Linked DNA regions of Homo sapiens: region 2 is linked to region 1. The links come from fine-mapping of genetic effects on plasma protein levels. A gene starts in region 1. The other region holds a variant in brackets. All regions are shown on one strand. Distances are between the middles of the regions.

Region 1 (2,900 bases):
TGCTGAAGACATGCTTATAAGAAAAGGACCCCGGGCTTTAATGAAGAGATCAGACTCATTTACAATTATCCACATCCAATTTGAAGGTAAATCGTTTTTCTAAATTAAGACAACTAACACCCCCCCACCCGCCACACACACACACACACACACACACACACACACACACACACAAATCTTTTTTGCTTTACTATTTGCTTAATGTTTTCCCTCAGTGATAGATCCCATATCTGAGTCATCTATCACGCTTTTCTCATTAGAGCAGGTTTGGCTTAGAAATAAATCCCCTGCCTTAGGCTGCCAAACCTGCCAATTCGCTAGCTAAACGGTCGCAGGGAGGGCCCTGGGCGCTGGAATTCAATCCCCTCCCTTCTAGTGTGCCCCCACTCGGGGTCCCCACCTCCCTCCACCGTCGCCCGCATCTCCTCTCCATCCCACCTCACCCCCCACCTCCCTGAGGCTTCCCAAGCCCAAACTGCCCATCCCAATTCCCTCCCCACCCCCAACACCTATTCACCCCGTGGCCCCTGCCAGCCGTCTCTACCTGTCCTTCCCGGAATCTGACCCCTCATGCTGCCCACGGCTGCCTGTGGAAGTGCACCAGTCGCCCACACCTTCGCCCTGCTGGGCCCTGCAGAGTGGACACGCCTAACCACTCGCCTTCCCTCCCCGCCGCTCCCCTCCCGGAGCTGGGCGTTTTCCTCTGCAGGACCCGAGACCCCGCTAACCTCCCAGCGCCGGCCGGTGGCTTCGTTAAGCTTCAACACGGGACAGATCTGCCCCCATGCCCGCTCCAGACCCGGGGCCTGCAAAAGCGCATTCACCCACCCGGCCCGGTCCGCAGCTTCCGGGGTCTGCAGGTCCGACGGCGCCCGGGCCCCTCTCAACCCGAGGAAAGGGGGGCGGGGTAGGATCCGGGAGCCCCCAGCTCTCCGCGGGCCCCACAGCCCAGGGCAGGAGGGGCGCCCGCGGTTCCCGGGACTCCTGTGCGAGGGGGGCCGCCCGGACCTGGGGGAGGGCAGGGGAGCAGGAGCCCGGAGGGAAGGCGCCCTGCTCAGCTCCTGCAGCCCTGAGCGGGAACGTGCGGACCTCCGCGGGATCCAGGCCCGGCCCGCAGCAGACAAAGGCCGCCCCACCCCGCGCCGCCCGCGCCACGCCAGCACTCACCGCGCCGCGCCGACTCTGGGACTCAGGGACGCGGCCCAGCCTGGCTCAGTCGCCGCCGCAGCGAGGCCCGGCCCGAATGGGGGCCGGGGGCGGCCCGGGGAGTCCGAGGGGCGGGGCGGGCCGCGCCGGAGAATCCGCCTGAGGCCCGGAAAGGCGGCTCCGGTGCGTCCCTGAGGCCGGATTGGCCCCGCGGTGGCGGCTGCTGACCGAGGCCTGAGCCAGCCCGCTGGGCAGAGCACACGGCCTGGCCCCCGCCCCCGCCCCGCCCCGCCCCCAGGCCTGACCCTGGCGGGGAAAACCCTCGGCTCCCGGAGCAGGGCGCTGCCCATCCCCCACCCCGTTCCCACACTTCCAAGAGCCGAATCTTCCTTTCTGCGAGAGGGGATAGGTGACTGACTGGTCATCGACTGGCGGCAGAACAGGGCTGGAATCCTGCTGTCCAACCCCAGTCTTGGGTTCTTCCTCCACACCATGCTGGCACCACAGCCCAGAAAGGGTTAACTCGACTGCGAGGAATTAAGAGCTGCAAGGAGCTCTCTATAAATACAGTGTCGTGGGCGCCTGAGCCAACCGCAGGACAATTTCCACTGAGCTGGTTTTCCTCTTTTCCTTCCACCCACGGCCATCCGACCAGCCCTGCCCCCAGCCCCACCCCAGACTGCTGGCCGGACTTGGCTCCAACAGGCCTGACACCTAGTGGCCTTGGGCTCTGTCCTTACAGGGCCCCGCTCCAGCCTGGGAGGAGATGGGGGTCGGGCCTGTCCAGATTTTGCTGTGGTGCAGCCCATCCCTGCACCTGTTCTTGGATCTGTTCTTCCTCACAGGGACAGTGACAGCTAAAACGTAGGGAGACTTTTGTGGGCCAGAGTTAGGTTAGGAGCTTTCCATGCTGGGCCTCTTTAGTTCCTCCAAACAGCCCCGCCGGCTAGATATTATTATTCCCATTTCACAGATGAGAAAACCAAGGCTCAAAGGGATGAAGGGACTCCAACCTTGTACTGCTGCCAGGCTCACCACCAGTGCCAGTGGCAGTACTGGGCAGGGCTTGGGAAATGAGTATGAAAACATGTGCGTCTCTCTGCATGTGTTGCCACTGTTGTAAGCTCTTTACCATTTTATCTCATTTAATCTTCACAACAACTCATTGAGGTGAATACCATTATTCTCATTTTTACAGATCGGAAATAAGGAAATTAAGATACAAAGAGATTAAGTAACTTGGGGACACATAGCTATGAAGGGAGGAACCGGGATTTGCCCTCTGAATTTAAGTGTGCGTGTGGTGTATGGGTAGGGGTGGTGGTGCATGGGTGTGTATATTTGTGGGGGGTTTTTGTCTTTTTTTTTTTTTTGAGACAGAGTCTGGCTCTGGAGTGCAGTGGCTCAATCTCGGCTCACTGCAACCTCCGCCTCCTGAGTTCAAGCGATTCTCCTGCCTCAGCCTCCAGAGTAGCTGGGATTACAGGTGCGCACCACTATTTTGGCCAGGATGGTCTCGATCTCTTGACCTTGTGATCCACCCGCCTTGGCCTCCAAAAGGGCTGGGATTACAAACGTGAGCCACCGCGCCCGGCCGGGTGTGTATATTTGTGAACACATTCAAGCAACTCTGTATTTGAGTCTACGTGCATATGTGTCTTTGAATCACACAGCAGCTGTGTCTGTGTAATTGCTGACTGCTCCTAGGGATGACAGCAGAGAGGCCCAGCTGTCTTGTCCCTGACCACCTCCAG
Region 2 (2,900 bases), 21 kb before region 1:
CTGCAACCTCCGCCTCCCAGGTTCAAGCAATTCTCTTGCCCCAGCCTCCCAAGTAGCTGGGACCACAGGTGCATGCCACCACGCCCAGCTAATTTTTGTGTTTTCAGTAGAGACAGGGTTTCACCATGCTGATCAGGCTGGTCTCGAACTCCTGACCTCAAGTGATCCACCCGCCTTGGCCTCCCAAAGTGCTGGGATTACAGGTGTGAGCCACCATGCCCAGCCCTAAATTTTTTTGAAATCACTTTAAATGTTAGCTACTCAAGTTTAAAATAGAGAATTTTCTCTTAGGTGAGATAAACATTCTCTTTGCAATCACATTTATACTCATAAGTCCTTTCTGCACAGCATCGCAAATATCCAGCTCAGCCCAGGGTGCAAATGACCACAAAGACCCCTTATCCTTCAAGGCCTTCTCAGCTCCCATTTGCCCCTGGAGGTGTCCTCACTACCACCCTCCCTCCTCTGAAAGCTTCATATCCTCTGCCAAGATCACTCTATCTTCTATTTCTTCTTTTCGCCTGTGAACAGCATTTTCACCACCAAACCATATGCTGTTCTCTAAAAGGTCAAGGACATGTCTCAGAACATTCAAGAGCTCAGGGCAGCTACTCTCTCCTGGAGAGCACAGGAAGGGAGTGTTTTCCATCTTGGGGAAGGGGTGGGCAGAAGGAGCACAACCTTGCCAGAAGGAAACACGTAAGAGAGAAGGAGGAGTGAGCCTGAACTCCAAGCAGACGATGTGACGGGCCCTGGCTCCGAGCTTGTCAGAAGTGGGGACCACATAGGTCTCAAGAGGGAGAGGACAGGAATAAGTGAGTCCTGAGGTGCATGCAGACCTGGAAACTTGGGGTGAGATCAGAACTTGGATGGGCTGAGGGGCAGATGGAAGTCATCAGAAGACAAGAGGAGAACCAGACAGACAAAACCTGCTGTCCTGACCTCACTGTGCACCAGGGCGAGGTCCCTGGGAAAGCTCAGTTGGCCAGGGAGAGATACTGAAGAGCCAGACTGAGCACGTCGGCCCAGGAAGTGACTGACCAGAGGCCTCTCAGGGCCAAACACAGATGGAGACTGCGGCTCTTGACCTCAACCCTCTTCACACCCTCAGGCACAAGAGGTGCCCACGAGGCTAGAACCTGGAAACCAGAGACTAACAATCACTAAAGGGGTGGCCTCTATCTGGTGTTTGACCACACGGGGGCAGCAGAGACAGCCCCTGCCCATCCAACGGCTGCCTGGGTGGAGCGCAAGTCTGCAGGAAGAAGAGCTGACGTTGACTCAGGTGTTGGGGACTAACTAGGGAGGGCCAGCTGTCACTCAGGCTTCAGAATCAGATGGCGCCCACTGACCCAGAATACCTTCCTACCACTCAGAGGAGTTCCTGCTGGAAAGCACACCCACACCAAGTCCCCTGGGCCACACCTTGTGGCTGCCCCAGAATTCCTGCCCATGCCTCCAAATTTCGGGCAGGTACCTTGTCCTCTGCATAAGAAGCATAAGTGCCACGAAAAGCACTCTTAGGAAGGCAAACATTATAAATGGTTCTTATCAGCTCGAGTCCCTTAAGGACTTGTGGGGAAGAGTGTGAGCACCTGAAGTCTATGAAAGGGATTTTGAAAGTCTTCTGGCCACCCAAACCTATGGAAATTCCACGTTAGGGTCCAGTAAAGAGGGAGTTACTCGCTCCGTCCTTCCCCAGCTGTTCATCTGCCCTTACCTGTGATGGTGACAGAGCCGTGCGCATCCTGCTGCAGCACGGGGTTGCGCACCAGGCAGCTGTAGGTGCCATTCGCACCCAGCACCACCCGCAGGACGCTGTGCACATCAAACAAGCCCTGCTCGTTGGCCATCTGCGACGTGGTCACGTTGCCAGTCAGGGGCACACCCTGCCCATCCTGCCAGAACACCTCAGCCTCAGGGTAGCCCCGGTAGCTGGAGCACGTGATGGTCACCGTGTCCCCTGGCCGCAGGTCCTTGTTGGGCTCCAGGGTCATGCTGGGCTTCGAGTAGGGAGCTGGAGGTGACAGAGGGCAGGGGTCAAGGGCAGGGCAATGGCAGGGGAGGAAAAGGATGCATGGGGCTGAGTACAGGAATCAGCACTGGGGTTCTGGGAGCAGTGGTGCAGCAGAGGGTGGGCTGCAGAGGGAATGGAGGGTGAACCAAGGGGAAGGCGTCGCCCTCCTGGTGCTCAC[C/T]GGCCACCTGCAGGCTGACGGCAGCGCTGCCGAAATCCCGGATGCTCACGAAGCAGGTGAAGCTGCCCTCGTCCGCCACACGCACGCGCTGCAGCCTCAGGGATGCATTGCCTTGTGCCAGCAGGTCCGGGAAGAGGGCCGTGCGGTTGGCATAGGCGCTGCCCTGGTCCCGGCCTTCGGTGAAACTGTGCACCAGCTGTTTGGTGTCTGTCAGCTGCCAGATGAGGTTGAGCTGTGCCAGGCTGAAGCCAGGCTCGGGGGAGAAGGAGCAGCGCAGGGTGGCATCGGTGCCCACTAGGGCCACCACCGGGTCCTCAGGGACCTGGACCTCCACGGCTCCTGGGGGCGGGGTCAGAGGGGCAGGGTGGTGAGGAGAAATGGGACTCTCTAGGCTACCACCCGAGTCCCCCAAACTCTTCCCCCATCAATTCCCAGACCCTGTTCCATCTTCCTATTTTCTTCTTAGATGCAAAAGCAGATTAAGTCTGAGGACTCTCAGATATGGAGTCTCCCCAATCTTCTGAGAACAATCACAGCAGGTGGGTCTTGGCCTGACCAGACCAATCCCAGGGCCAGGCCTGGGGCAGGTGACTCTCACCAGCTCCAGCCCTGGTGAATCCTGCCATCAGGACTCCTTTCCTTCGCCCACCCCTCTGCTGACCCAGATGTGGCTCCATTCTTCCCAGAGGCTTCCAGAGCCTTGAA

Alleles and levels. Alleles are on the strand shown, and positions count from the first base shown. The strength of an association depends on the size of the effect and on how common the allele is.
For the plasma level of the protein whose gene starts at base 1,245 in region 1, T is the high allele of the variant in region 2 and C is the other (moderate association).

What was found. PIP is the chance, under the fine-mapping model, that this variant and not a neighbour inherited with it causes the effect. The UK Biobank Pharma Proteomics Project read protein levels with antibody pairs (Olink). The fine-mapping took linkage between variants from a reference panel, not from the people measured, so its PIPs are less certain.
Region 2: its variant is fine-mapped to the plasma level of the CD276 protein (UK Biobank, PIP above 0.99). The variant lies in the coding sequence of CD276. If it changes the protein, the assay may bind it differently, which can mimic a change of level.

Annotation. Positions count from the first base shown.
Region 1 is chr15:73,682,728-73,685,627 of GRCh38, reverse strand. CD276 (CD276 molecule) reads right to left here and starts at 1,245. Exons shown (of 10, transcript NM_001024736.2): 1 at 1,168-1,245. RefSeq lists enhancers at 324-830, 1,848-2,356 and silencers at 815-864, 1,025-1,154, 1,165-1,294, 1,415-1,464.
Region 2 is chr15:73,703,293-73,706,192 of GRCh38, reverse strand. It overlaps CD276 (CD276 molecule), which reads right to left. Exons shown (of 10, transcript NM_001024736.2): 5 at 2,196-2,534; 6 at 1,721-2,017. Among named protein-coding and RNA genes, the nearest start is that of CD276, 20 kb to the right of the region's middle. The variant C/T (reference allele first, on the strand shown) is at 2,196.